Homo sapiens: one gene and its partners. The protein of the gene in region 1 purifies or fractionates together with the protein of each later gene. This does not show direct contact. Each region holds a gene or a part of one and is shown on either strand. Other genes may lie near its edges.

Region 1 (4,444 bases):
CTTGTGGGTTCATCTCAATTAGCTTTGGAGGAATAACCATATGGTGGTAGAAAGCATTTGAGTACTTCAATGTATACCATGTACCTTCTGAATTTTAAGAGAATCATTACTTACTTCTTGTGATCAGCATTTCCTAGTGTGATGAAATGGGCACCACTGGGTATTAGTGTAAGGCCCCGTCGGGGAGGGAGACGCCCAGGGAAAGTGTGCTTGTGCTTCTGTGGAATCTGACTTCAATGATTATTTGCAAATAAAAGTATTTGATAATATTTGTTTGATTTTTCACTGTCAAGATGCCTTATTAGCAACAAAATCTTAGGTTACCTTCATGGAGTTGTCAAATAATTTGCATAATGCATAGCTTAAACATTTTTAGACCTACTATTTGGTCTTAATAACCACCTGGTGAAGGTTAGATATAAAAATGTTGCATTAATTATCTTCCAGATGAAAAGCACTAAGGTTCAAATCTTTTAATGAATTCTCAATATCACACAACAGTGATGGAATGCATGTTAAACCCAGGACTTTCCTACTTGTCCATGGTATTTATACTATATTTGAGACCTCTAAAATTTTACCTTTTACTTAAACCTCAGTATCAGAAAAGCAATGTGCTAGCCTTGGTCGGTAAAACAAACAAACAAACAAACAAACAAACAAACAATCAGTTTTCCTTTCAGCACATGCCACCCAGACCTGTGCAATAATTGCAGGAATACATCCATAGAGAACACACAGCTTTGGTGTGAACAAAGGAGTGTTTTACTTTCAAGAATACAGAAATGTCTCTGAAAAGCTGGCCATAAGCTAAGTTTTGCAGATGAAAATAGTTTCTAAATACTTTCAATAAAAGTGAAAATATATTTATTATAAAATAAAATTACATACCAATACTTGAATAAGTACATAAATTCATATTACATTAATGTTAACATATTTAAAGAAAATGTTGGTTTTCTTTTAAAATGTTCAAAACAAGTGATCAAATGTAAATGCATCACTAGAAACTCCAGGCGTGAGCCCCCGTGTAAGGCTGCTTAGAGTCTAAGTAGTAGAGTTATTTAAATGCTAAGTTCGTAAACCAAGCACTTCTAACTCTGGTGTGTAGGGCAGGTGGTGGAGAGGTGTCAGGATGGGGTTCCTAGCCAAGAGTGAACAAGATGGAGAGGAAAGTGAAGATGTCTAGGCCTCCAAGTGAAGACTCTGCATGTGATCAGCAAAGTTCTGTCCATCTCCTATAAAACAGCAAGCTCTGGCAGTTTCGTGTCTGGTTATTTTGAAGGTTCAGCTTTTTATCACAAAATGACAAATTTCTACCTTGATAATAGTAATGGCTGGGTGTGGTGGCTCACACCTGTAATCCCAGCGCTTTGGGAGGATGAGGTTGGTGGATCATTTGAGGTCAGGAGTGTGAGAACAGCCTGGCCAACATGGTGAAACCCCGTCTCTACTAAAAATACAAAAATTAGCCGGGTGTGGTGGTACACACCTGTAATCCCAGCTACTCAGGAGGCTAAGGGAGGAGAATTGCTTGAACCCAGAAGGTGGAGGTTGCAGTGAGCCGAGATCGCATCACTGCATTCCAGCCTGGGTGACAGAGCAAGATTCCGTCTCAAAAAAAAAAAGCAATAATTATATAATATTGTTATTTTAAAATAATGGGCTGGGTGTAGTGACTCATGTTTGTAATCTCAACACTTTGGCAGGCTGAGGCGGGATAATCCCTTGAGCCCAAGACTTCAAGACCAGCGTGGGCAACATAGCGAGACCCCATCTCTACAGAAAATATTTAAAAATTCGCTGGAGGTAACAGAGCATGCCTATAGTCCCAGCTACTAGGGAGGCTGAGGTGGGAGGATCACTTGAGCCTGGGAGGTCGAGGTTGCAGTTAGTAAAGATCATGGCACCGCACTCCAGCCCGGGCGACAGAGCGAGACCTCGTCTCAATAAATAAACAATAAATAAGATAATGTATAGTAAGATAACTAATACATAATACAAATTATAATGCAATAATTATATACTGTATAATACTAATTGCTGCTTTAAATTTCAACAGAGATACTAAATTCATACCACATCAAACAGTCTTTGCATTACAGTAGGATTTGATTTAAACATCTAGAGCTAATCATCTGATCCCTTCAATGGCCAGGGAAAGTCTTCTCTTCATTTGTTCCTTTATTGGACCGCACGTGAGGGAGCAGAGCTAGACGCTGTCAGGATGTGAGGAAGCGGACTCGAGGGCGTCAGGGCGCCGAGGCTGAGGTAGCAGCCGGAAGTGCAGCCGAAGGCGCAGCCGGAAGCGCTGCCACAGTGCCGGTCGCACACGTGGCACTGGCTGCAACCTCCTGGCAACAGCTGCCAGGCGGGAACACAGGAGTTTCTCTCTCAGCTTCTCAACCTCACGCAAAGGACAGCCAAAAATTTGAAAGGGCAGCACCAAGAGATGTCACTACAGCCTTGCAGACAGAAGCAACTGTGTTAAATAGGCAGGCAGAGGAGGGGGAGAAGCGAGAGACAGGCCATCGGTACCCCCGGCACCGGCAAGGGTGGAGGACGCTGCAGGGAACCGACGGGACCCGGCCGAGAGCCCCGACTGTGAGGAGGCGGCTCACGGCGCCTACCTGGGACCGACCCTGACTGTGAGGAGGAGACTCACGGCGCCTACCTGGGACCGACCCTGACTGTGAGAAGGAGGCTCATGGCGCCTGCCTGGGACGGGACCCGGCTGAGAGCCCCGACTGTGAAGAGGAGGCTCACGGCGCCTACCTGGGACCGACCCTGACTGTGAGGAGGAGACTCACGGGACCTACTTGGGACCGGATCCTGACCGTGAGGAGGAGGCTCATGGCGCCTTCCTGGGGCCAGATCCCCAACCGAGGACCCCGACTGTGTGAGCAGGAGGCTCACAATGCCTGCCTGGGGCCAGACCCCAGCTCAAGGATCCCGACTTGGCAAGGAGGGGGAATCCAGAAGGAGTGGCTCTAGGAGTGAGAGAAGAGAGACAGACCCTCTCACATTGTTTTAGATTGTTTTATACTCAGAAAAGGAAACAGAAGCGAAACTAAAGGCAGGTAGCCCAGCGCCTAGGAACCAGACCCGACACCAGGCCTGGACCTGCCTGACCTAAGCCTGGTAGTTAAAATTTGACCCCTGACCTAGCAACTGATGTTATCTATAGATTGCAGACATTGTATAGAAAGACACTGTGAAACTTCCCGGTCTGTTCTGTTTCACTCTGACCACCCGTGCATGCAGCCCCTGTCACATACCCCCTGGCTTGCTCAATCAATCATGACCCTTTCATGTGAAACCCTTAGCGTTGTGAGCCCTTAAAAGGGACAAAAATTGTGCACCTGACAAGCTCGGATTTTAAGACGCTAGTCTGCCAATGCTTCCAGCTGATTAAAGCCACTCCCTTCACCATCTCGGTGTCTGAGGGGTTTTGTCTGCAGCTCGTCCTGCTACAAGAGAAAAAATGGAACCCTGAGACCACCTCAGTGCAGTGTCTTGAGAGTGTTCTGGCCTGAGGTTTGATGCCTAATTATTGAGAGGTAGGTGAAAAACCCAGCAACAGAAAAACGAGGAAAAGCATAAAGTTATGAAGAAAGGAAATGCTGGATATTATGTGGCTCAACTGTGATGGCAATGATGTACACCAGCAATGTGAAGTGAGTCTATCAGGAGGCTGGCAGGATGATAAATTATACTTGGGTGGTGGGAATGGCACAGGAGAGATAGATCTTTATTCTTGTTAGAAATCTAATGGACACTGGGATGTAAATTGGGAGGAAGAAAGAAAAGAAACAGGAGCATAAGTATGCTGTTTAGAAATAAAATAAATACCAGAGAAGAGATGAAAGAGATGCTGCCATAGGGCTGAGAACTGGGGATGACGAGGGGCCGGAGACTATTATCTTCATACAGCCTTGTAGTATCATTTGCCTTTTACAATTTTATAAATGCACTCTGTTGAAAACTAGCATTTAAAGTGTATCATTATATTAAGATACCCATTTTTAAATGTTTACATTTTTAAGGAACATTGTGCAGGCCAAAGCAAAATAGTGCATGAATAGGTCATCAGTTCAGTGTTGGACATAAGTGATTCAAATTTGGCACAGTGAACCCTTTGGGAGAGGCAGCGAATTTGGGAGAGGCAGCAAGTCCTTCTGTAGGAGTGTGCGCCGAGGCACAGGACGGCATGGGAGGAGAAGGGGAGGCAGGCAGGGCCACCCCCGAGAGAAGCACAGCCACTTGGAGACGCCTGTCTGTTTGGAAAGCAGTGGGCAGCTGAGATTTCATGAAACAAAGGATTTGCAGATGGAGTGAGAAACAAACAAAAGTGCTCGGATAAGGCAGTCAGGGAAATGGGACTTGTTAAGCTCTGGTGGCAACCTAGGTTTTCCAGATGGTGATCATAAAATCAAAGGTCGCT
Region 2 (4,444 bases), on another chromosome or scaffold:
TTAATTAACCACATGAACCAAAAATGGAAACAACTCAAATTGCCAACATATGATCTAATAAATTATGGTACAGCTATACAAAGGAATAACATTCAACAATAAAAAGATTAACAACTGACATACAACATGGATGGATCTCAAAGGCATTGTTACATGAAGAAAGCTTTTACATAAAAGAAGCATATGATTCCAGTTACTGTAATGACAGCACATCAGTCATTGCCTGAGGCTGAAGGTGAGAAAGATTAGCTGGCATGGACACTATAGAACTTTTAAGAGTGAGGGATCTTAATTTTGGTGGTAATTATTCATGTGTATAAATTTGTCAAAACTCATCAAAATGTACTATTAAATGGGTGCATATTACTGTATGCTAACTACCTCAATAAAGTTGATTTAGAAAAGAACTCTGAACGTGGACTCCAAAGTTTCACATGGCCAGGGGCCTACTTGCCTTTCATCATCAGCTACTGTGCTTCCCAGTCTTTCTAGTTCTCTGGGCATTTATACTTGGTGTTTCCCACTTACACCTAATTAATGTCTACTCCCCTTAGACTCAGGTCAAGGTGAGAGGCGAATCCGGCTGGGCTTCTGGGTCGGGTGGGACTTGGAGAACTTTTCTGTCCAGCTAAAGGAGCGTAAACGCACCAATCAGCACTCTGTCTAGCTAAAGGTTTGTAAACACACCAATCAGCACTCTGTAAAAACGCACCAGTCAGTGCTCTGTGTCTAGCTAATGGTTTGTAAACACACCAAACAGCACTCTGTAAAAACAGGCCAATCAGCACTCTGTAAAATGGACCAATCAGCGCTCTGTAAAATGGACCAATCAGTGCTCTGTAAAATGGACCAATCAGCAGGGCGCAGGCTGGGCCAAATAAGGGAATAAAAGCTGGCCACCTAAGCCAGCAGCAGCAACCCGCTCGGGTCCTCTTCCACTCTGTGGAAGCTTTGTTCTTTTGCTCTTCACAGTAAATCTTGCTGTTGCTCACTCTTTGGGTCCGCACTACCTTTATGAGCTGTAACACTCACCGCGAAGGTCTGCAGCTTCACTCCTGAAGCCAGCAAGATCACGAACCCACCGGGAGGATCAAACAACTCCAGACACGCCACCTTTAAGAGCTGTAACACTCACTGCAAAGGTCTGCGGCTTCACTCTTGAAGTCAGTGAGACCATTAACCCACCAGAAGGAAGAAACTCCAGACACATCTGTACATCTGAAGGAACAAACTCTGGACACACCATCTTTAAGAACTGTAACACTCACCGCAAGGGTCCGCGGCTTCATTCTTGAAGTCAGCAAGACCAAGAACCCACTGAAAGGAACCAATTCCGGACACAAAAGGACTTTCTCTAGTTTACTTTCCCAGCCTCTAGTTTACTTTCCCAGACTCTAGTTTCCATCCTCTTGTTAAGTGCTCTCCTTGCTCCCAGTAAATGGACAATGAATGAAATGAAATGCCATTTGGCCCTGAGTGGACAGTAAACAGGAACAAAGCAGACTTTCATACATCCCCACTGCCCACACATAAAGTTCTGCTATATTTGAGAGAAGAAAGTTGCCAAGAAAAAATAGTTTGGGAACAGGGCATCTCATGTACTTTGGTGTTGCCCCCAGGAGTCTGGTCTAATCCTGTCTGGGTACAGGACAAGTTCTGGTTTCATTCAATAAGTTCAACACTCTCAGAATGAAAGAAAAAGTTCTAGGTGTCTAAATCACTTAGAACTGAAATCAATGCATTCTCTCTTTATTTCTTTAAAGTAGTAATGGCCTGGACCCAGATTTTCAAAGGTTACTTTGAATTGCATTAGGTAATCACCTAATTCATTCTTTCTACCAATGTTGTATAGTGTAGACCAACATCTCCAGATTACCATCAACCACCCCAAACCAACCCACCTTTTGGAGGTGTAGAAAGAAGCTAGTCTGGCCTTACAGCAGCATATTCTGGCTTAAGGTAAGGAGTTATAGTCTCAGGTCTTGCAATAATTACTTACATGAATTTTAACAATTACTTTAATGTCTCTCTCTCTCTCTCTCTCTCTCTCTCTCTCTCTCTCTCTCTCCAGGCAGACAGACAGTCAAAAGTACTAGAACTGGGAAAAACCTAACATTTTCTCAGATCTCTAGGAGGTATAATTTACATTATAATTTATCATCATTAGAAGAATGACAACTTTCTATACAGCTCCAGCTCCTTTATTCACGATTATGCAACTATGAATAATTCTTTGGCTCAAAATGAAGAATTATTGGATAGTCATAACTAAGCTATTTTTTTAAAAAAGAAGGATGGGGAGGAAGGAAGACAGGAAAAAAGTCTCATAATAAAATATTAAAAGATGCTCAGGAGACTGAAGTTTGAATATTGCTCACATAACCTTCATTAGAATATGCTATAAAAGCAGTTCACACAGTAATAAAAACTGAGTCAAATAACAGCCATAATAATTTTATGAAAGATTTTTTTAAAACCACAATAATTTCCAAGTACATAGTATATAAAGCCGAGATGCGCCATGGCAGTTTTTTTAATATGAAAATGGGTAAGAGGCTTCTATATTTGTTTCCTGTACTGGTGCCTGCTTTTATCACACAGCAGTCCACATATTATAGTATATGAAGCAGCAAGCATTTTAAAACTTGGGAGAATGAAAGTACTAACAAAAACAGCATATAAAAGATGTTCATTATTCTAATAGAGCATTTTTATCCTGATTTTTTAAAAACTCACACAATTAGCATTCAAGTTATTTTTCATTATTATCTGCTTCCTTTGCTATAATACAAAAGTTACATATTTTATCTACTAATACTGCCTAATTTGAGGATATCATAGAAACCATAATTTTGTTCATTTAATATTAAAATAATTTTATAACCTCACTGATGAGTCAAACAAGATGTTCATATAATATTGTCTATCTAATATTACAGGCAGAAATAACTATAGAAATTAGGTATTTCTTAGAAACATTTTCATTAAAATTTTATAAGCATATGATATTTCTGTGCACTGCCTTTTTGGTTTTAAGTAATTGTTTATAAAAGGCAGAAACGTTGTTTTATATGCAGTCAATATTTCTGTTAAGAAGGTTCATACATTACAGGTTTCTAGGGAAAAAGTATGTAATTATTAAACTTGCTGGGTTTTTTTAGCTAATATTACCTAGATGTGACTTTTTCAAACACTCTATTGGTTGACTTCAAATATCATTTGATTTCTTTGAGGAATTGTATTGTTTTGCAACTTCAGGAATTATCTTGGCATTAAAAAAGAAGTGTGGAAAGAAAAATGTTTGTTACTATATATGAAGAGAACAAAAAGGTCCTACCTGTTTCAATCTCATGAAGAAAGTCTCTGTGAAAGTCTTTCTGCTGAAATACCAAAATCGCTCATTTGCAGGGTACACACGGACTACTGTCTCCAGGAGAAAGCGAACAGGCTCCACCACCTCTGTGACTACCATATCCACTGCCACAGTCATGTATACTTGCTTATCTGTAGTAGAAATTTTCTGGGTTTTATGCGAGCTTTATTATTCCTTGTCTACTTTAAACAAAGTTTCCTCACTTATGAAAGAATTAAAGTTCTTTACAATTGTAATACCTTCTATGTTTATTTTTAACTGTTCTATTCACATTTTGATTAAATAAGTATGCAAGTACTCCAAGCATGTTTCTTAGGAACTAATAATCCTAAGTGTTTGTTGTTTTGAGACAGAGTCTCACCCAGGCTGGAGTACAATGGAGCGATCTTGGCTCACTGCAACCTCCGCCTCCAGGGCTCAAGCAATTCTCCTGCCTCAGCCTCCCAAGTAGCTGGGATTACAGGTGCCCGCCACAACACCCAGCTGATTTTTAAAATATTTTTACTACAGACGGGGTTTCACCATGTTGGCCAGGCTGGTCTCAAACTCCTGACCTCTGGTGATCCACCCCCATCAGCCTCCCAAAGTGCTGGGATTACAAGCGTGAGCCACCACACCTGGCCTCATTGAGGTTTTTGAATCTATGGCCTGGTCATTCCATACCATTTTGTAATTTCCTCATTCCTTTTTAAATATTTTTTAAAATTTATTTTCTTTACAATTTTTAGTTCTCTGTTAAAGGAAAGTCCAAATAACCAAGGCCACCACTAGAAGAAACCCTCAATAGTGTTTTTAAATATTATATAACATTCAGATTCATCAACTACTTCTCAAATTCAATAACAATTTTATTACATTCTTACTAAATACAGTCTTACTAAATACACCTGCCAATTCAAGAGAAACTAAAATTTGTTAGACATTATACTTGACCTGGAGGACCTTAGAGAAAGGAGTAAGGAGTAATAACACAAGACAGAATATAACATTCAACTGGATCTTAGTGCAGTGGAAAGATCCAAGACTTTTCATCTCTCAGGTTCTAAACTTCTTCCATAAAAATCAAACTTT
Region 3 (4,444 bases), on another chromosome or scaffold:
TTTTCTGGTCTATAAAGTCAACCTTCTCTGCTTAGCCCAGGGGAATGATTCATTCTATTTTATAGAATGAGGCTGCCAAATTCTAGAATCATAAATAAAAGCCAGTTAGAACTTTGAACTAAATTTGTTGTACTTTGCCTTTTGATAACAGCTAGAGATCATATTCAGCTACTATTATCATTGAAATTTGTGAGTTAGCTATTTTCTGCACAGCCCTTCTAATTATCACAATCCTTTTCTTCCAGCTGTCTCCCTATCCCCTTAATACCCTACATCAACCCTAACCAAAAACAAAAACCCTAAAACAAATATCACTCTTCCTCCAATGCCAACAGAAACAAATGAAGAAATATACAAATACAACACAAGAAAGGAAAAGGCTGAGGAAGCAGCACTATTGTGAACATTCTCTACATTAGTGTCATGAGCACTTATGTTCAATTCCTGTGAAAGTATATAAAATAACTGTGCAGTGAGACTATTATAACTGCTTAAGACAACAACTTTAAACTTTCTTCTCATTGCCAATTCTAAGAGAATTATCTTCTAAAGATTAAGAATATTAAAACAGAAACTTATATTAGGACCATTTATGTATGAATAAACTTCAATGTTTGAAGAGTTTAAACTCACCTGAAGTATTTTGTAGAAGCTTACTTCCATACCAGGAACCAATGGTTTAAGTTTGTTAATCAAATCAAGAGTTTTCAAAATTACATCAGCAGCAAGTTTGCTTTAAAGATAAATCACATTTAAATTAGATAACTGAAAAATTTCTTAGAGCTTGTTTCTGTCCAAAATTCTAAAGAAAATGAAAAAAACCAACACTTGTGTTTTTTAAATTCAAGATGATAAAGTCCTGTTTCTATTGAGAAGTAAAAATCTCAATCAACATTCTTATAACTCAAGATCCAAAGAGAACAAACTGGCATTAATAGCCTTAGTTTAGACAGTGTTTCTTTTACTACCAACCTGCTTCAACTTTCTGTTTCAAGTAAGTAGTAGTTTCGAAACACAGTTCATTTAATTCTTAGCTTTGTCACTAGAATATCAACAACAGACGGTAACCTTAGGCAATATAGAATATCTAATACGTAATGAATGAATTACACTAGGTCATGTTCTGAGTTTTGTACCTGAAAGTAGTATACAAATATAAAAACAGATAATTCTTACTCTAAAGGTCCACAATTACTGACAATTGTGACATCTGTGGAAACAGAAACAAATCATAGTGTCTACCACTCAGCAGGTCCTCAGTAAAGATTAGATGGACTTAATTCATGAGGAGGGAAGGGGTATAAAGTAATATCTTATTACCATCAGTGAAAATCCACCTTTAACCATAATTCCTGACCTGCCAAGGAAGGAGAGTTGTCTGTTATTAAAAAGCCTTTAGCAGTGACTGATTTCCTTGTAATAAAACTACTCTTCTGTTTTTTCATGCTTTTCATTTAAAAAAGTAAAATTGATTACTGAGGCAATGTCAAAAAGGAGCTCCAGAAATGTTCAGAACCCTTAGATAATTATAGTAAGTTAAAACAAGACAAAACAAACCTAAACAATAAAAAACAACAAATGTTAATACCTTTCTTCAAAAAGCACACAATCTACAAATTGAATGAATTTACAAAAAATTCATTATGAAAATATGTTTGTTAATCTGTTATATCTTAAGTTATAACCAAAGGATGGTCCTCCAAAAGGATGAGAATCACCACATCTTTCGATTTTTTACTGCCTTGCCATTTTGTCATTAGAGTTTATATACTCACCATAATTCAGAATCTGCAACCTTTGTTCCAAATCCCAGGTCAATCTTGCCATATGTAAATTGTTGTTCTATAAGAGTGGTACACTTGACAGTTGTCAAGATTTTTGCAATATGCATTTTTAGTGTATCATCTCCACAGAGAGGTTAAGTTTTGTTAAGATATACAACAAAAAAATTCTCACTTTATGTGTAAAAGATAACATTCAGGATGATTTCATACAAATTATATCATCACTGTCATCCAGTATAATTATTGTTAAATTAGCTCAATGACAAACAAGGAAACTGAAACTCACACAATTTAAATGACTAGCAAGTGGTAAGAGATGGACTGGCACCAAAGGTTTCTGACTCAATGGTTAAAACAGCGAGGATATCTTTCCATTGGATGTCTGTTTTTTGTTAGCAAGAATCTCAATGGTTCAATAAATATTTATTGAATAAGGGTAAGTTGTTTTGTCATATTTGTATATTATAAATTAATGTAAATAGCTATTATTTTAAAAGTTGTGGTCCAATTCAATGAGAAGGCCCCACTTTATTAATTATAAATATCTCCAAGGTCAAGCAATCATGTATCCCTACTGCAGTGGTTCTCAACTTTAGCTGCATGTTAGAATCAACCAGGTAGTTTAAACAATCACAAACAAAAAAGCCAACATGCAAACACACACCACCTAATGATTTCAGGGTTTCACATCACTCCAATTAAATTAGAAACTCTTGAAGTAAGGTTCTGGCATCGATTTTCTTTTTTTTTTTACATGTTCTCCAGGTGATTTTAGGTAGGAAATCAGGGTTGAAAGTCACTGCTTTAAAGGAAGAAAATTAAGGAGCAGTACCTTAGAAGAGGATATTAAACAGGGGTGGAGTTTGCTCTAGGACAGAGTAGAACATATTCTTGTTGCTCTGAGATACAAGGAAACCTGACTAGATACATTTAAGAGATCTGGTTGAGATACAGTGGCTCTTTGCTCATAGTAAAAAAGTATTAATGAAATATTTTAAAATTGGGACTTCCAGCAACTCAGAATTAGTTGGTCTATGAAAAAGTAAACACAAGGAAGACCTAGAAAATCAGTATATAGAAGTTAAGCAGTGAAACTAAAAGGTTTCTTTTTAAATGAATGAATTTGTGTTGATATACTTGTCTTTTCTTATAACCATTATTAAAGCAATTATGAAGGCTTTATTTTTAAAACATAAGGTAAAACAACTGAGCTAAAATCATGACAACTCTATCAGCATTTCTTTATCCACGAATACACATCACCAAAAAATGGCACTACTGATCGTCCGTCCAGGGGAAATAATTAGCATCAAGCAGAAAACAGTAACATGGAGTAACAGAATAGTCATTTTAGAATTTACCACCAAATGTCAAATTGTGATACAAGTGTCAAAATCAAGCTTAAACAGCATTTTAAAAAATGTACTTTAACTTAAAAGTTTCACACAGAAAAATAAGGAAAAAAAATCATGGATCTTTTTCACTCATTGAGAATTTTTTCTACAGTTCAAATTTTAGTTCAGTAATTCTAGATAAATATGAGCATAAAGTGACAAATTACAAATAAAGACAAAATGCAGTGAATGCAATACTAGAAAAAAAAGAATGGTTAGTTATACAGTTTTCACGTTAATGACAGTAAAGGATATTTAACAAAACTTCAATGGCCTTGGCAATCCTTTCACATTTTTTTCTTGTTAAAGCCTCATCTAGATTTTGTTCTGTGAACTGAAGTTGATCAAGGATTGTAGGCAGCAGAAGGGTCACAAAACGATCAGCCGAGGAACAGTTAGCAGCATCTATGACATCCTGGAGAATTATCCATCACAAATGATTAAAAGCAAAGATGGAATATACAATACAGAAAAAGTCATCACTGAATTGTAACACTCTCTTTAAATTTTTTATATTTCCTTCAATATGCCATTGACCTAAGTCTCCTGTGAATATTTAAATTTTTATTTAAAATTTATACTTCTAACCAGTTTTGAGGGCTATGGCTTTTTTCTCAAATTAGACAGTAAGGTTTTACAAATAAGACTTTTTTAAACAGACTTTGTGATTTAAAAATTATTCTAAACTAAAAGTATCTACTGAAAACAAATATCCTGAATCTGCTAAAAGTAATAACAATAATTAAATAATAGACATTGGTCTTAATAGTTTATGACCACAAATAATTTCCCTCAAGACCCTCAAAGGGCTTTTTAAATGTTAAAACTGATTGTTAAATAATCAAGACCAAGATAAAATAGAAAATTTTGTGAATAATTCTTAATGAACATATTTAATCACTTCATACACATATTTGTTTGTGTGTAAGACCCAGTTATGTGAAGGGAAATACTTTCAGGAGATATTGGGTTAGACAGAATGGATTTATAAACAGGGAGAATAGTAGAGAATATTAAATTGCCCAGATAGTAAGATCTACCAGAATGTGGAGTTTTGTCTGTATCTTAAGTGCCTAGCACATTATCTGGCATGCTCTACTCCATTTCACTGACTGAATCCAATATGCCTCTATTGTCCATTCAATGGCCTACTAAACTTGGTAGATGGCATCTATTGCAATGGAGAGACAATGTAACTATCCCCAGTAGTCAGGCAACAAATTATATAAATCTTTTTAATATCTTTACTTATTACACTGAAATGAG
Region 4 (4,444 bases), on another chromosome or scaffold:
TATTTCATACCTCTTAAAGAACACATTTCCATGTAGCATCTTAAATGAAAGCTTTCTTCTCAGCTGGCAGATACTAAGTAGCATAAAGGTAATGGCATTTTATGAACATAATTAAATATAACCATAAGACACATTTCAGTATATCATTAGTATAACATAGTATTGAAAATCTGTAACTGACCTGTAACAGATGTACCAATAGCTCTTCCTTTATAAAGCTATCTTTTCTTTTCATGAGAGATGTTACAACACACAGGGATAACAGAAGAACCAGCAAGCCTGCACCCATCCTGTTTTGAAATACAATTAATTTTAAATTTTCTTCAGATATTTACGAACACATATCAGATGGAAATATGAGACATCTTACTCTAATACAGAACCTCTCAGTCATTTGGCTTAATCAAGAGGAAGTAGCAAAATGGGTACATTTTCAGATTTTTAAGAAAACTTTTAAGTTTTAAGATTTTAAGAAAACTTTTAATCTTAGGATAAAGATACTGCTGGATGGGGTTATTTGTAACCTCTCCCCACAATTTTCTAAGTATCTCTACCTTGCTTCTATAATTTAATTTAAAAAAATTTTAGGCATATCAAATACTATAATATTTAGCCTGAATTGGGCAAATTTACAAAAATTTACAATATAAAAGATAGCTAAACAAGTATATTATCAGTATCTACAACATGTATTTTGTGATTATGAAACTTACTCATGCAAAAAGTATCTACATATATAACCCACATTATTTCTAGCAGGAAAAACAGCTCCCTTCTGTGACAGACCTTGGTATTTTCCTCAGCTGCTCCTGGCTGAGGGAAGGGGTAGGCAGTGGTCACATGGGTGGCATGCAGGTGAGGCATTTGTACAGTAATGAAATAACAGTAAGGAAACACACCAGGTATAGTATGTTTCCTAAAGTCAAAGGTGACTGATACCAAGGAAATGGTGCCCTATTGTTGAGCTCTTTCTCACCTCCTTAACATCTGAATAACATAGCACAGCCAGAATTATGCTGAGGATGAAATCCAGAACCCAAATAGAACTAAGAGAAAAGGAATTGGTTGAAGAGAAAAAAGAAAGAGCAAAAAGCAGAGCTGGACACCTAAGAAGAATGCAAAGCAGGAATCCCCAGAAAAATGCTTGATGGTTGGTTGTGATGCTTCAAATACACTCTTTGAGAATCCTAAGGAGAAAGGTAATCATATATTCAACATGGATTATCATTAAAATTTAGGAAAAAATAGTCACATATGATCAAGATTCTTTGCTTTTTTTCTCTTTCTTAATTTTTAAAATAATTTGGTATCTAAACTTATTGGCAAATATGTTTTTACTTTAGAACACTGGAGTAACAGACATCACAACCATGTTGTACACGTTTGCTTTTTCCTTTAATTGTATCCTTAAATGTTTCACAAAATCACATCTTTGTGATTTTCTGAAGAAGGGAGATGCTGTGACAGATGAAAAGGAGAGTAGAAATTTCCCCATGAACCAGGAATCAAAATAAATAAGTTGCAAATATAGCTAGTAGGATAAACTTAAAGTCACTGAGCAATTTAAATTTAGAGGGAAACAATATAATTTTCTAAAATATAAATTAGATTTCTCATATTTTAACAAGTTTATTTGCTTCCCACATTCATCTTTAGTAGAATACGCAAGTGGCAAATTTATACAATTTCCTTCCCTTTTAGCATATGATAAATTCTGCTCAACTATGGCAATACTGCTTGAGCAGGACTGATAGGCAGAGACTGACAAAGGGAAGGAAAGGGGCTTTATAGAAACAATACAAGAGCTTACAGAGCTATCTGAAGCAAGAAATAAATGAAAATATTGGAATTCATTTTGTCATATACTATTTATAGGTTATGACAGTTGCAAAATGTTTTTACCTAGTAACACTCTAATAAAGTATGGCTTAGATAGTATGGTGTTAGAATTCAATACAATTATTTTGAGCTCTGCTAATAAAGTGACTTCCTGGGATATTTCCTGGTCTATTGCATATTGGTATTCTCATACAAATAGGAGAAAATGTATAGAATCTCATAAATCAGCACATATTTTTACAAAATAGTATTTAGTTAATCTTCCTTGATTTAAAAATATATACCATTATCCATTACAGACTTGGTTAGAATGTTTTAAAAAATGCTTATAGCATTCTGAAGAAAGTAACAAAGATGATTTAATTTCTAATTCCCATGATTAGACAATAAGAGAGGAAATGTTAAATGAAATAATGATCATATGCACACTCAAACAGCCCATAATTTACTTGACAATAAAGTGCAGTTAAAAGCAAAGGTAACCAGTTATTTTATAAATTTATTTAGGTCTATTGAAGAGAAATAAATATAGCAGCACAGTAAGGAATTTAGGTAAGATATGCAGAAGAATTTTCAAACAATTTGAGTGGTTAAACATGGGAAAGCTGGCAAGGTGAATAGAGTTTCCTCCCATGGAGATCTTTACATTCAATTTAGAATAGCAGAAAATTTAATTTTTACATGACATTTTAGTGTGGACATGATTAAAGCAAAGAGGGCTAACACAGTAGCTTTGAGACATTTTTGTTTTGGCAACAGAATGTTTTTTCACATGAAACTAAAACTTTTACTGATTCCTCCAAGCATAAAAGAAAGAAAACCTTCTAGACTTAAACAAAAAAAAATGGGCGGGATTTTAAGTTATCAGTGGCACAATTTCATTATGAAAGCCCGAAAGCACCTACTAGGAGGTTTAATGACTCTTAGAACCTAGGCCAAAATCATGACTAATGGTTTGATATTGGTATTTTAAATTCCCGTTAGTTCACATGATTTTATATTCTTGACCAAGATTAGGTTCAAATTTTACAGTGTTAATTGAGGAAAAAAAAGTGTATTGAAAATAGAATAAAATACAATATTATTCATACACTAGAGAGATGTCTGGCTTTCGACCTACAACCGGCATCAGTGGGAACACTGCCAGGAGCAAAGAGAAGAAAGTCCAACTCAGTGAGGTCATCTAAAATCAAGAAAAAAGTTATCTTTAGACAAATATGGTATAGAAAACTATCATTAGTGTTTCACAGACTATATGACTGTGAAGGTAAAAGGAAAATGCAAAGCCTTACAGCTGTTTATTATTTTATTTTTCAAATACTTTCTAGCAGAATCAACAGCTAACTACTTTAAAAAGTAATAGTTACTATTTGTGAAGGACCTGTTGCATAGCAGGTATAGTATTAGGTATAATATGAGCACTTTCTCATTTAATTCTCACAATAACCTCAAGAGGCAGGTATTATCATTCCCAATACATCAGATGATGAAACAGAGCTCAGAGAAGTTAAAATATAAGTAGTACCAGGTCCATGACAAGTAAATAAAATAACCAGTATTTAAACCTGCATAAAGTGCTTCATTCAATTTAGGTTAGACCATATATTGATGAAGACATCTATAAAAAAGGTGGCCTACAATAATCACCAAACAACTGAGCCCAGAAGGAAAATAAGTAAAACTACTTTTGTAATTAGATTAAGATCCCTCACAAATTAAAAGATCGATAATCCCATTCATTGAAGATTTTTTAATAAATTCTCAGAGTAGAAAGAAGATATCTTCCTGCTACTTCTATCAAAAAGTATCAAAGTGGAAATATAAGTGCATTCTTTGTAGAAGCACATTGTAATTCCCTATGTAGCTGAAGGAAGAAAATCAAGACTGACTATATTTTTAATAATCTATAATAAATACATACTTATCCAGAAAAAAAAAAAACTGAGTGGCTCAGGGTAACGAGGGAGGTGTTTCCTGTGACTCACAGAGTGCAGACCCCTAAGCCACTGGGCTGTGCTGCTCTGGACGACTCCTTGCCTGGTCCATTATCAAGATATTTGAAGCTAAACAAATCCAGGAAATGCTTCAGAGATGGACATATCAGTACAACTTATATAGCATTTCAATTACCACATAACTGGCCCATTTTGATGTGAAAGTCTAAGTGAATTACTGAAACCTTACAGGTAATGTCAGTCCTCCTATCAATATGACTAGGCTCTTTTATGTAAGAACACATTCTACCCTTTTCTTTAAAAATAAACAGTTCCTTGAGTTACACATGTGTCAAAACAAAGTAGTTACTAATCTGTCCTATGTCAAAATGAGTACTCATACCTTTGCTCGAGTCCACAGCCGAGTGAGAAATGGCCAAGCTGCAAAGGCAGTAAGTCCAGCGGTAAGCATATAGCGGTAGAAAAAACTGAGAACCTAGTAATGCATTCCAAAGAAGGAATGAAAAATAAGGTCATTTAATACTAGTTACAAATATATAAAAGAAATTTGCAAATGTTGTAATCTGGTAAGTTACTTACTAATACTTCAATTCCCAGGGTAAAGGCTAACAGGTACCCAACAAAATGGCTCAGAGGATAGGTCAACACTG
Region 5 (4,444 bases), on another chromosome or scaffold:
ACTAATGCTAATGATAGGTGATGAGCTAAAAAATAAAACTTAAAAATCACAAAAAAAACTCTCAATGTTTTAAGAAAGTTTTTGAGTTTGTGTTGGGCCATGTTCACCCCGTGGACCACAGGCTGGACAAGCTTGGTTTAGACCCAGAGAAGTCTACTCAAACCAATAGTTAACTGAGTTTAGAAATACAGATTGAGTATCCCTAACCTGAAATGCTTAGGACCCAAAGTGTTTCAGATTTTGGTATATTTGCATTATATACTTATTGGCTGAGCATCCCAAATCTGAAAATCCAAAACCTGAAATGCTCCAATGAGCACTTCCTTTGAGCGTCATGTTGGTGCCCAAGATTTTTCCCATTTTGGAGCATTTCAGACTTTGGATTTGCAATGCTCAACCTGTAGAAGGAGCGTATACTAAAACCAACCAGAATGCACATACCTCATCAAAAACTTCAAGTCCCATAAAATGCTGTAGGCAATCGTCTGAGGGGAAAGAAGAGAGAGATACTTGAGTCTCAGCCTTTCCAAAGGCATTTCCACAGACTTCATAATACATTAGGCCGTCTCTCCAATGTCAGCTGGAGTCTAAAACACACAAAACCATTGTAGGAGACCGAGGACAGATCTAAGCTCAAAAATGTGGTTCTGTATTTCTCAAGAAATGTGCTATGATGTTCCAGAGAACAAAGTGATTCTGAGACCACTGATGTGGATTCAGATATTCTGTTCCCAGCATTTCATTCTGAATAACCAAGTATTCTTCTTTATGAAGCAACGTGATAACAAGACAGCATCCTGGCTGCAGCCAAGCTCGAGACTTCCCTTGTCACGGTAATCATAGAAATGGGACAAAAGATGGCCCAGTACCGAATGACCTGCCTCTACAGCCCTGCTTGGGCTCACGACTTCCCCAGAAGAGAAAGGAGCTCCAGGCAGTCAGAGACATGCAGGGGGCTGAAGGGGGAGTGACACTGAACCCTCAAGGATGTCTTTTCAGAAGCTCTGCTCCACCAGAGCAAAGAGAAGGGAGCCCCGACCACGCGGCCCGTGTACCTGCAGAGCTATGATTCCAAAGAGCCCGAAGCAGGCGTACTGCACGAAGTTCCTGCTCAACACCAGGACGCAGCCAGCTGGAGAGAAGGACAAGGGTTAGGGGGCCTGAGGGTGGGTGCCGGCGGGGAGCACTGTCTTGATACACTGCTACCTCACCTGGCCCTTAGGTCCAGAGGCAGCCAAACCACCTACCCAAGCAAAAGACAACTTCTGGAAGAATTAATGATAGGCAAGGACCACACATGGTAAGCTGACTAGACTTATCACAAACACCAGAAAGTGGAGCCCTTGCCGTCATAAAGAATGGGCTGTTTCCCACAATCAGCTCCCAAGTCAGCCACCCACCTGAGGTAGGCAATTAACTGCTCTACTGTGGACTGCCAGCCAGACTCCAGCATCTCCTGCTTTGGGTCCCTGACAGGGACCATGTCCTATTTCCTTAGCAAGCTCTAAAGCAGTGAGCTCAGGGCTAGAGACTAAGCGTCCCCACCAAGGCTTGCAGAACCGGACTCCTGGCCTGGCACAGCTGAGCTGGAGAAGAGGGGAATGGAGGGGGGACAGCAGTCCAGGAGACCCCCGAGTTCACACACAGCCTCCCAACTGCTAACGATCATGGAACAAGACGCCCAGTGAATCCTGACCACCCGCAGAGCCACTCACTCAGCTGTCCCAGCAAGTTGAGGAAGACGAAGGACGAGGCCAGCAGGTAGCCGCAGTTCCAGGTGGTGTCGATGTAGTCGCGCTGCTCGCTCCACTGGAACCACATACGGATGCCGTCCTCCAGGAAGGTGCTGATCAGACAGAGGCGCGCCACGTGGGGCAGGTACTGCTTTGTGACACGGAGGAACTGCAGGGCCACAGAAACCCAAGGGTGAGGTGGCTGCGGCGGGGAGCACCAGGCCGCTGCCAGGCACGTCCTTGGGCGGGGTGTGTGAGGAACAGACGCTGTGGAAGGCAAGAGCTCTTGTCAGCCCCGGTGCCTTCCCAGGGCAGACTAGGGGGCTCTCAGTGCTTGCTCCTGAGCGCTACCCTGTGAGTCTGGACACATGCAACAATCCAAGGATCAGTCCCGGAGATGCATGACTTGACGTTAGGCCCTCTGGGGCAGATCCTATAGGGCAGCAGCCCTAACACTCTGCTACCGTGATTTCCCCCAGTGCCTCGGCAGGCAACTACAGTCTTCCAAGGTGGCACTGCCACAAGACACAGAGCTGCTCTTTTCGGTCAAAGGCATTTACAAGTTGGAATCACAGAATGACATCTGAAAAGGCACTTAGAGGTCATCTATCCAACGTTTCTGCACCTCAGCACTACTGGCATCTGAGGCCAGGCCACTCTTTGCCGTGGGTCATCCTGGGTGCTGCAGGCTATGACGCACGACATGTCTGCCCACGACATGCCAGCAGCAGCCTCCCTCCTGAGGCACCGCTGCACTTTGCCAGGCATCTCCGCTGCTCTGGTCCAACCCCTCACCTTACAAATGGCTATATTAAACCCAGCGGGAAGGGGTTCCCCTAGGCTTCGCAGACCTGATGGTGCAATGCCAAGACTTGACCCCAGCCTGCAGGTCACACATGGCTGAGGTGCCAAGGGCCTGGACCTCCCAGCCTGCCCAGTGACGCCCAGAGTACCCTGACAGAACAAGGGTTGGCTTAGGTGACAGCCAGGGTGCCACACCTAGAGGGCCACATGGTTGACTGAATAGTAAGATCACGTTTACAGTTATCCGAAAATCTCCAGAGCAGCAGGAGGAGGCCCCAGGCTCTGGACAGCGCATGTGTGCTGTTGCAAACCAGGGCTGGCGCTTCCCAGCCCGACGGAGCTCTCCCCTGCAAGCTCAGGATCTGACGTGGGGACTGTGTGTGCAGCAACCGTCAGCGCAGCATGAAGCTGGTACCGCTAATGGCTAGAAAGCGCTGGGATTTTGTCAAAGCCTGCATAATCTCGAGCAAATTAAAACACACTAACAAATGGGATGGACAGCTGTTTCAACAGCAATGAAACGCAAGTGTGTGAAATCACTGTCAAATGTCAAAGGGAAAGAAAACATTTATGACTTCCTGCTGTGCTGTGAGTCAGGTCATTTATGACGGCTGGGTTAGGTAGCCAACATGCACTATCGGATGCCAGGTACAAATGTCACGCAGGTTCACCCCATGCACTTTTCTCTTATCACCCATGCAAAACTGAGATATAAAGTGAAAGAAATACTGTAACACAGCAAGTCCTTCGGAGAAAGATCAGGGGACCCATCCACCAACGCATGTTGGGAAGCCAGAGTCTAAAGAGCACCCGAGAGGCTGACCCCCACGGGAGGCGAGCGAACGTCAGCTGCACAGGCCTCCTAGGGCTGACTAAACCTACTGTTGGAACAAAGGAAGATATGCGTGTTTCTTATTTTTCAGCATTTTTAAAAGTTGCTTCAAAGTCCTAGACACTGCTGAAGCTGCCCATCTCAGTTACCACGCCCCTGGGTGTTCAGGTCACCCTCCAGCCTGTCAGGTGGGGCCCTGACTAGGTCAGCACTGCAGATTGGCTCCCATGTGGCAGAGAACGGAGGCAGAGATTACAAAGCCAGGTGGCCATTCTCCCCAAACCCACTGCGCCCTGCAGTGTCAGTTCTGCACACATTTACTCAGCCTTTGACTCCACGGAAGTGATGGGAGAAATCACAGTGACCGACAGATACCCAGAGAATCACCAAGTGGGTTTGGGAGATGAAGTGCAGGTGGAGGTTCTGAGGCCCTGTGATCTCATCCTGCCCTGGTACCATCCAGCCAGCACACCGTGTGACCTGGACACGCCCAGTTACTTTTTTGAGAGTGTCTCTACTATCCTGCAGTAGAGTGAGGCCACCTGAACTAATGGTTGGTAAGATGCTTTCCAACTTTACTAGGAGGAAGACCTTGTTTCACTTTTTATTTTTAAAAAGGCCCCAAATACTCCCCTGTGAATTTTAGGGCCAATGCAGAGAACCAGCACAAGATGCCCATGTGCACAGTGTGACGCAACCTGCATCACACTGGGTGGTGGGAAAGGTGACGCCACACACCCTCCCCAGGTTCTGCCTCATGGCCCCGTTGCTCTCTAAATGCCCAGCAACAGTGTAATCACCCATATTCCATGGAAGAGAGAAAGCACACCACCGTGGCACACGATGTGCCACTGCTCTCAAGGAATGGCCTCACATCGTGGCCCAGCTGGGAAGCCCCAGCAAGGACACAAGCCTTTATCTCATCTGAACCTGGGGAAAAGCAACCACTGGGAAGGAAGAGCTCAACAGGAGGCTGTCCAGACCTCTGAGATGAGACGGAGCCGTGGTGGGACTCCCAGGGCAGGGTGTGGGTGTGGGGCGTGGACCCCAACAGCAGCAGAGAGGTAGACTGCAA
Region 6 (4,444 bases), about 160 Mb from region 1:
CAGTCGGTGATGTCGTGGCACAGGGCAGGGAGGATCTTGGAGAGGTTCCTGAAGACGAGCTCCCGGCAGCCCAGCACAGGGCGGCGCTCTGGAACGAAAAAGGGAAAGAAGAATGAGAAATTCACAAGCAAAACCTCAACAACTCAAGTTACCGCACATCACATTTAAGGGACACCTGTGAGTTTCAACCTCACCATTTCAAAACAAGTCTTGGGGTGGACGCAAAGCTGACAAATGCCCCGTCGTTCAGAACATTCACAGAGGCGGTGCACGGCTGCAGTCCTAGCCCTGTGGAGGCCAAGGCAGGTGGATCACTAGAGCCCAGGAAGTCAAGACCAGCCTGGGCAACATGGCAAAGACCCCATCTCTATAAAAAACAGGAAGATTAGCCAGGTGCCGTGGTGCATGCCTGTGGTCCCAGCTACGCAGGAGTCTGAGGTGGGAGGATTGCGCCACAGCACTCCAGCCTGGGTGACAGAGCGAGACCCTGTCTCAAAAAACAAACATTTAGAGCCACACAGAGATGCAAACAACACACTTGCCACACGTGCTGACGTGTATGATCAGAGAGACACGCCTGCGAAGCCGTCCCCCTATGATCAGAGAGACACACGCCTGCGAAGCCATCGCCATATGATGAGAGACACGCCTGCGAAGCCGTCCCCCTATGATCAGAGAGACACACGCCTGCGAAGCCATCGCCATATGATGAGAGAGACACGCCTGCGAAGCCGTCCCCATATGATCAGAGAGACACACGCCTGCGAAGCCATCGCCATATGATGAGAGAGAGACGCCTGCGAAGCCGTCGCCATATGATCAGAGAGACACGCCTGCGAAGCCATCCCCATATGATGAGAGAGACACGCCTGCGAAGCCATCGCCATATGATGAGAGAGACACGCCTGCGAAGCCGTCGCCATATGATCAGAGAGACACGCCTGCGAAGCCGTCCCCATATGAGAGAGACACGCCTGCGAAGCCGTCCCCATATGATCAGAGAGACAAGCCTGCGAAGCCATCGCCATATGATGACAGAGATACGCCTGTGAAGCCGTCCCCATATGATGAGAGACACGTCTGTGAAGCCGTCCCCATATGATCAGAGAGACATGCCTTCGAAGCCATCGCCATATGAGAGACACGGCTGCGAAGCCATCGGCATGGTGGGGGTGACAGCTGCGTCCTTCGCCCGGCTTCCTCTGCTCCTCTGCACTGCAGCCCCCAAGGCACCCCGGCACCCCTGGATCTGTCCCGTGACTGAGCTGCACTTTCTAGAGCCTGACACAAGTGGAAGCCTCTCGTTCACTCTCCTCCCTTCTCCGCTTCTTTCACTCTGCATCGTTTTCTGAGGCCCGCCTGTGCCCGCTCCTTTCTGAACCTGGGAAGTGGCCTGTTCTGGGGAGATGCCAGTTTAGTGCCCGCTCCTCTGTGGAGAAGCATTCAAATGGTGTCCAGGGCAAGTCTGTGTGGCCTGGGCTTTCACTGTGCCGGGACAAATACCAGCTGTGGAAGGGCTGGGCCACAGGGAAGGTGCACGTTTAACTGTTTTAGAAACTGTCCAACCATTTTCCAAAGTGTTTGAGCCAGTCCGCGCTCCTTCCCACTCTCAGCGGCACGCGGTACGCTCAGTCTTGAATTGAAAGCAGTCCGAGAGGCACAGTGGCATTTCCGTGTGCTTTTCCTTTGCATTCCCCGATGACTAACGACGCCGAGCGTCTTCTTCACAGGCTTGTTTGCCGCCTATCTTCCCTGGTAAAGGGTCTTTCCAAATTGTTTTCTGCCCATTTAAAAAAATGGATTGTTTTCCTGCTGAGTTTCAAGAGCTCTTCCTATACTCTGGAGATAAATCCTTACATACATCATCTCCAAACATCTCAGTCTTTGGTTTGTCTTTTCGTTTTTTCAACAGGCCTTTGAAAAAGCAGAAGTGTTCATTTTGATGAAGTCCACACATTGCTTTACCCTGTTACAGAGCGGTCTTTTGAGGACGCACCCAGGGAAGCGTGGCCCGGCCCACGGTCACGAAGCCTTCGTCCTAGCTCTGCGGTCTTTTGAGGATGCACCCAGGGAAGCGTGGCCTGGCCCGCGGTCACGAAGGCTTCGTCGTCACTCTGCAGTCTTTTGAGGATGCACCCAGGGAAGCGTGGCCCGGCCCGCGGTGACAAAGGCTTCGTCATCACTCTGTGGTCTTTTGAGGACGTATCCCGCGAAGTGTGGCCCGGCCCGTGGTCACGAAGGCTTCGTCGTCACTCTGCAGTCTTTTGAGGATGCACCCAGGGAAGCGTGGCCCGGCCCGCGGTGACAAAGGCTTCGTCATCACTCTGCGGTCTTTTGAGGACGTATCCCACGAAGTGTGGCCCGGCCCACTGTCACAAAGGCTTCGCCCTAGCTCTGCGGTTCTGGGCTTTACCTTCAGATCCCTGACGCATCTGGGGTTAATTTTTTGACTCCAAGTTCACTTTCTGGTGTATGAGTGATCCTATCATTTACAGTATCCTTATTAAAAGATGCCATTAAATGGTCTTTGAGCCTTCATCAAGTCAGTGGTCCGCGTGCGGGCGCCTGTTTCTGGACGCTCTCGTTCTGCTCATCGGTCTGAAAGCCAACACCACGTGGCCCCATGACTGTGGTTTTGTGAGTCTTGCACCCAGGACCTGCTGCCATTCAGCTTCACTCCTCCCCAGTGTTTCGGCAGCTGTGGGTCCTTTGCACGCCCACGAGAATTTCACAATCAGTTTGTCGATTTCTACAGAAAAGCCTTCAGGGACTTTGATGAAAAGATTCTGATCTTCAAAATTCAGGCCGGGCACGGTGGCTCATGCCTGTAATCCCAGCACTTTGCGAGGCCAAGGCAGGCGGGTCACCTGAGGTCAGGAGTTCAAGACCACCCTGACTAACATGGTGAAACCCCGTCTCTACTAAAAATAGAAAAAATAAGCCGGTCGTGCTGGCGAGCGCCTGTAATCCCAGCTACTCAGAGGCTGAGGCAGCAGAATCACTTGAACCCAGGAGGTGGGGGTTGCAGTGAGCCAAGATTACACCACTGCACTCCAGCCTGGGCGACAGAGTGAGACTCCATCTCAAAAAAAAAAAAAAAAAAAAATTCAGAACAACTGTAAAGATAGAAATGAAACCATGATATGTCAGGATTTAAAGGGTCTTTTTCTATTTTTAGAGAAAGGGTCTCACTCTGTCACCCAGGCTGGAGTGCAGTGGTACGATCACAGCTCACTGCAGCACTGACCTTCTGGGCTTAAGTAACCCTCCTGCCTCGGCCTCTCAAAGTGCTAAGATTACAGGTGTGAGCCACTGCATCCAGGCTAAAGGGTATGTTTTAATAAGAACAGCTTGTACCAGGACACCCCATTTTTAACCTTTTTCTGGTTATTTTTCTGTTTTTATCCTGTATTATGGAATTAGTTCCAAATAATTAAAATTCTGCTGGCTGTTTAAATGATCCTGTCATCATTTTGTAAAAAACAAAAAAGCCAGGGTGCAAACACACCTCTCTTCGTTTTTTTTTGAAATGCAGTCTCGCTCTGTCATCCAGGCTGGAGTGCAATGGTGCGATCTCAGCTCACTGCAACCTTCACCTCCTGAGTTCAGGCAATTCTCCATTCTCATGTCTCAGCCTCCTGAGTAGCTGGTACTACAGGTGCATGCCACCACACCTGGCTAAGTTTTGTATTTTTAGTAGAGATGGGGTTTCACCATGTTGGCCAGCCTGGTCTTGAACTCTTGACCTCAGTATTACAGGCATGCGCCACCACGCCCAGCTGCACCTTTCTTCCTGATGACGATCCGCTCTGGAAAGTTTGCAAAATGAGAGATGCGTGACCAGGAACAGCCGGGGAGGGGTCTGCTGACAGCTGAACAGAGCTTTGTGGGCACCTGGGCTTCTGGGTGTTTCCAAAGAAATACTGGCCGGTGCTGGGCAGGGGTACGCAAGGCCTGGACACAGGCTGGGACTGGTTTAAGGCCTGTTAGGAACTGGGCCCCACAGCAGGAGGTGAGCAGATGGTGAAGGAGTGTGACCGCCTGAGCTCCACCTCCTGTCAGATCAGTGGCGGCATGAGATTCTCAGGGGAGGGCAAACCCTCCTGTGAACTGTGCGTGTGAGGGACCTGGGTTACGTGCTCCTTATGAGAATTGAATGCCTCATGATCTGAGGTAGAACAATTTCAACCTGAAACCACCCTGCTCCCTGCCCCACCCATGGAAAAATTGTCTTCCACAAAACCAGTCCCTGGTGCCAAAATGGCAGGGGACCGCTGGTACAGTCAAGCGTTGCTGAACGGTGGGGGGTGCGTTCTGGGAAACACGTCATTGGGTGATTTCGTTGCCGTGTGAACGTACTACAGTGACGTACACAAGCCTAGATGGCGCAGCCTCCTACGTGCCTGGCTGTGCGATGCCTGGGCTGTGCGATATAGCCTGTGAG
Region 7 (4,444 bases), on another chromosome or scaffold:
CCACTATGGGGATGTGTGTGGTGGTTCACACCTGTAATCCCAGCACTCTGGGAGGCCAAGGTGGGCGGATCACCTGAGGTCAGGAGTTCAAGACCAGCCTGAACAACATGGAGAAACCCCATCTCTACTAAAAATACAAGATTAGCCAGGCGTGGTGGCACACGCCTGTAATCCCAGCTACTTGGGAGGCTGAGGCAGGAGAATCACTTGAACCCAGGAAGCAGAGGTTGTGTTGAGCCGAGACTGCGCCATTGCACTCCAGCCTGGGCAATAAGAGCAAAACTCTGTTTCAAAAAAATAAATAAAAATAAAAACCACTATGGGTTAACTTTCAGCAAGTGCAAACTAAAAAGTAAAGCACTTCTTATTAGTCTGAAAAAAATACAGTTGAATACAATTTCAAAAGTATAGTTTTGAATATAAATGTACTTTGTTTTTTAAACTAAGCTTTCCATTTCCCCAGCCTACAAAAGAGAGCAATTTAAAATCTACATCCACCTGAGGCCTCTTCTCTGTTATAGCTTTCATCCGTTCTTGTACAACAGAGTGGCTTTGAAACTGCATTTTGAAGCTGTCTTCCATTTAAGTTGTTAACTAAAAAGAAAATGACACTGGATAAAGACGTCGGTGCGGCCTTTCCATCCTGGTTCCCAAACAAACAGTGAGGCTGCAACATCAGGGTAGCTGATAAGGAACCAATTTTTAAACATGAAATTCAATAAATTAAAAACATTGAAGAAGCCCTTGCTTTGCTCCATTCACATTTCCTGGATCTGTCTTACTATACACGTTTTTAACTTTCAGATGTCAGACTTTGGTAGCATGGTACAAATACATACTGCAAATTGAGAACTGTATATATAATCCAATGATATTTTTGATAAAACCTTATGTGTATGCATTGAAAAATGTTTTTAAAAATGCCCACTAGATTATTAACTGTGGTTACCCTTTGAGGAGGAGGGTGTGGAGAGAGGAGTTAGGAGTGCAAATTTCACTTTGTGTATCTGCTACCTGAATTTATCAACAAGCATGTGCTACTATAATATTTAATCAGTAAAATTAAACAAATATGTAATGTAAAAGTGCATGATCTAGGCTGGGCATAGTGGCTCACGCCTATAATCCCAGCACTTTGGGAAGCCAAGGCAGGCAGATCACCTGAGGTCAGGAGTTCAAGACCAGCCTGGCCAACATGGCGAAACCCCATCTGTACTAAAAATACAACAATTAGCCGGGCCTCTAATCCCAACTACTTGAGAGGCTGAGGCAGGAGAATCACTTGAACCCAGAAGGCGGAGGTTGCAGTGAGCTGAGATCATGCCACTGCACTCCAGCCTGGGCAATAAGAGCGAAACTCTGTCTCCAAAAAAAAAAAAATAGTGCCAATCGATTACATTTTACTGCTGAATATTTACATTCCACGTACCTGAACGTAAAAATTTAAGAAGAGGATGACTAACGTTAGCATATAAGATGACTGGAAGATGAGACAACCGAAGGGGAAGCCACACGGTTTCACGACGGCGCTCATGGTGTGCGTGATGGTGAGCACGAACTGCACCTGGGGACGGCAGAGAGGGCATCTCTGTGAGCGAGCCAGGCTGTGCCACACAGACACTGCGGCCAAGCTTGATCAATTCAGAAATCAACTCCTAGGACTCTTGGAATTATGTAGGAACAAAACAAAGCTGCTGAAGCAGCCCCCTCATCCAGAAATCTTATTTGAAATTAGTATGTGAAATTGCCCATGATTTCCTCATGGAAAAGTCGCAGTTAAAATTATTTAGACAAAAAGGATTTAACTTACACATTAATTTGAAAAGTAATCATCTACATTTCAAAGCAAGGAACTTTCCATTATAAGCTAATAGCATGCACAAAGGGCATTTCAACACAAAAAGTTTAATTCTTAAAAGGCCAATTTTGGAAAAAAAATGGGCAGCCTCATCACACATAAAAAGCCCTCTGACTTCTAAGATTTCTATTTCCTTTCCCCATCCATAAGCCACATGGAGAAAAGCTAAAAGAAGGGACAACATACCAGCTGAGCCTGTGTGAGATATTTCTTCCACCAAAGATACTTGTGCATAGATGGAAACACAGAAAGTCCATAGTAGGAGTACATAAGAATGTGGATAAAACTGTTCAGTGTTGGTCCAAAGAAACCTATAAAAGTACAGTATAAAAATCACTATTCTTCCAGGAAGGACTGTTCATTCTTCTTTGTCAAGTGAGATTCTCTCTCTGCATGGTAATTGAAAATGAGTAGCACATATGACATGATCATATAACAAAATCCACACTAATAAATTCCCCAATTACTGTGCCAGTTCTAGGATTCACCAAAAACTCCATGATAGAAGGAGTAGCCTGGGATGGTTTTTCAGAATGCCCCCCCCCCGCCACACAGGGGAACACCTTATCTACGAGGTTTTACTGTCTCTTTAACCGTCACTACTATCAGCTACTGAGGGAGGAAAAGAAATACTAGCTTAAAGCTGTTGGCAGAATTCCTCTGAAATAGAATTGTCTTTGCTTTTTAGCTAAACCTTTGATAAGACATATTGACAAAGAGCCTTTTGTACATGGCTGAACAGGGTGCTAGAGAGACAAAATATATTGCTTTCATAATTAAGTAAATAAATTCTGCCTGAAAGACACTTAGGGACCGGGAGGTGCTGGAGAAAGAATAAAGGAGACAGAGAAGGCTGGAGTGGCGGAGAAACTGGCCAGCGAGACCTTCCCAGTGATTGGCCATTGCAGAGACTTTTAGGATGAGGGATGTCTAAAATCCAGGCCCCTGCCATCAACCTCATGAAACGTCTCTGTAACTGCCTCCACCATAGGTGAATAAGGCTTCAGGAAACCATGGAGAAAGGGTCATGTACCATGCTGGGTCAGCTAAGCATTGAAAGGATTTAGCTGCAAGAGGTGAGATGCCACAGATGCATCACTTGTTGGAAATAAGGAAACTCAGTGTTGTGAGGATTTCATCAGTACATGAAAGTGCTTAGAACAATGCTTGGCACAAAGTGAATGCTCTTCAGCTGTCAGCCTGGGATCCAGATGGCTGTTCTGCGAGCTATCCTGTGGTGGGAGGGATTGTGGCATTAGAGGGCCATTTATTGGCTATGTCCCCTTGGAGACATTGATTTGACGTAAATTTTTATTTTCTTACCTGGAAAATAGGTATAATAATAATAACTAGCTCTTAAGTTTGGGATGAAATTAACTGAGATAATATATGAATTTAAAAGCACCGCACATATGCTGGCTAATAAATCAATTTAAATTCCCTAGCCTGGTTCTTTAATCCTAGATTAGTGATCTGGATAGCTAAATGCAAATTAATAAATAAGAAACAAAAGGTACAATAGCATGCATAGAGTAAATTCTCAACCAATACTGGCTGAAATAAACTGTTACGGCGCTTGAATTTATATGAAAACACAAACAGAGTTTCAGACTACCAAGCAGCATAGTATTAGTGGTATTTCTTTACCTACATGACTTTTCATTTCCATCAATTAATGAACCATGAGTAGTTGTTGCTTATGTTTGACTCCTGTGGAAATACAGCACCTTCCACAGTCACCATTTCACTGTGATACAGATTAAGGCATTTCAAAAAATTGAAAGTCTGCTCTGGTAGGTCAAAGTATCATTTTTCTAATATTCTTAAGCAGAAATTGTCACAGTATTTACAGGACTATGTCTGTACACAGTGATGATTTGGGTTTTAGATGCTTAGTGATTTGTAATGAAACTTGACAATCATAAAAATACTTAACCTTGGTAATTCTCCTCTAATATTGATTATAGTTGTCCTTCCTTAATAACTAAACTCAAGAAATGGATGTCTACCCGTCTAGAAGGACAGAGATCAATTCTTTCTTTCTTCCCCCTGCACTCACAGCAATTTCCTCCCTCACTCTAGTGTTCATTTGTACCTTCACAGTCACTGATACTCCAAATATCTCTGGGCACTTTTTTCCCTAATATCATCTCTACAAGATCCTAAATCCTGGAACAAAGTCATTTTGACTGAAGTTTTACATGTTCTGATTTTTCATATTGTATTTCTAAATTCTTGAGAACAAGACAGTATCAAATAGAGAGTACTGTTCCCTATAGCTCAGTGCATCTCAAACTGTAGGTCATAACTGACCCATTAGTGAATGGTGAAGTCAATGCAGTGAGAATTGTCATCAACTCTTTGTAAAACAGGATTAGGCCGGGCGTGGTGGCTCACGCCTGTAATCCCAGCACTTTGGGAGGCCGAGGCGGGCGGATCACAAGGTCAAGAGATCAAGACCATCCTGGCCAACATGATGAAACCCCGTCTCTATTAAAAGTACAAAAATTAGCTGGGCGTAGTGGCGCACGCCTGTAATCCCAGCTACTCGGGAGGCTGAGGCAGGAGAATCACTTGAACCCGGAG

Evidence for each region.
Region 2: the proteins of VIPR2 (region 1) and RABGAP1L purify together in Homo sapiens (affinity purification with mass spectrometry; 2 studies listed by BioGRID and IntAct, with this or other methods). This does not show direct contact.
Region 3: the proteins of VIPR2 (region 1) and CIP2A purify together in Homo sapiens (co-immunoprecipitation; 3 studies listed by BioGRID and IntAct, with this or other methods). This does not show direct contact.
Region 4: the proteins of VIPR2 (region 1) and PIGN purify together in Homo sapiens (affinity purification with mass spectrometry; 2 studies listed by BioGRID and IntAct, with this or other methods). This does not show direct contact.
Region 5: the proteins of VIPR2 (region 1) and SURF4 purify together in Homo sapiens (affinity purification with mass spectrometry; 2 studies listed by BioGRID and IntAct, with this or other methods). This does not show direct contact.
Region 6: the proteins of VIPR2 (region 1) and DNAAF5 purify together in Homo sapiens (co-immunoprecipitation; 3 studies listed by BioGRID and IntAct, with this or other methods). This does not show direct contact.
Region 7: the proteins of VIPR2 (region 1) and ELOVL2 purify together in Homo sapiens (affinity purification with mass spectrometry; 2 studies listed by BioGRID and IntAct, with this or other methods). This does not show direct contact.

Annotation. Positions count from the first base shown.
Region 1 is NC_000007.14:159,110,063-159,114,506, forward strand, and holds part of VIPR2 (vasoactive intestinal polypeptide receptor 2 isoform 1 precursor), read right to left. Parts: intron 1-4,444. UniProt on the Homo sapiens protein: G protein-coupled receptor activated by the neuropeptides vasoactive intestinal peptide (VIP) and pituitary adenylate cyclase-activating polypeptide (ADCYAP1/PACAP).
Region 2 is NC_000001.11:174,277,673-174,282,116, reverse strand, and holds part of RABGAP1L (rab GTPase-activating protein 1-like), read right to left. Parts: intron 3,505-4,444; coding exon 3,338-3,504; intron 1-3,337. UniProt on the Homo sapiens protein: GTP-hydrolysis activating protein (GAP) for small GTPase RAB22A, converting active RAB22A-GTP to the inactive form RAB22A-GDP. Plays a role in endocytosis and intracellular protein transport.
Region 3 is NC_000003.12:108,564,722-108,569,165, forward strand, and holds part of CIP2A (protein CIP2A), read right to left. Parts: intron 3,594-4,444; coding exon 3,434-3,593; intron 1,918-3,433; coding exon 1,776-1,917; intron 734-1,775; coding exon 634-733; intron 1-633.
Region 4 is NC_000018.10:62,102,613-62,107,056, forward strand, and holds part of PIGN (GPI ethanolamine phosphate transferase 1), read right to left. Parts: coding exon 4,374-4,444; intron 4,270-4,373; coding exon 4,177-4,269; intron 3,023-4,176; coding exon 2,931-3,022; intron 291-2,930; coding exon 182-290; intron 1-181.
Region 5 is NC_000009.12:133,365,544-133,369,987, forward strand, and holds part of SURF4 (surfeit locus protein 4), read right to left. Parts: intron 2,001-4,444; coding exon of another isoform or gene 1,903-2,000; coding exon 1,716-1,902; intron 1,133-1,715; coding exon 1,056-1,132; intron 486-1,055; coding exon 442-485; intron 1-441. UniProt on the Homo sapiens protein: Endoplasmic reticulum cargo receptor that mediates the export of lipoproteins by recruiting cargos into COPII vesicles to facilitate their secretion.
Region 6 is NC_000007.14:750,233-754,676, reverse strand, and holds part of DNAAF5 (dynein axonemal assembly factor 5), read right to left. Parts: intron 89-4,444; coding exon 1-88. UniProt on the Homo sapiens protein: Cytoplasmic protein involved in the delivery of the dynein machinery to the motile cilium.
Region 7 is NC_000006.12:10,988,274-10,992,717, forward strand, and holds part of ELOVL2 (very long chain fatty acid elongase 2), read right to left. Parts: intron 2,170-4,444; coding exon 2,045-2,169; intron 1,565-2,044; coding exon 1,430-1,564; intron 1-1,429.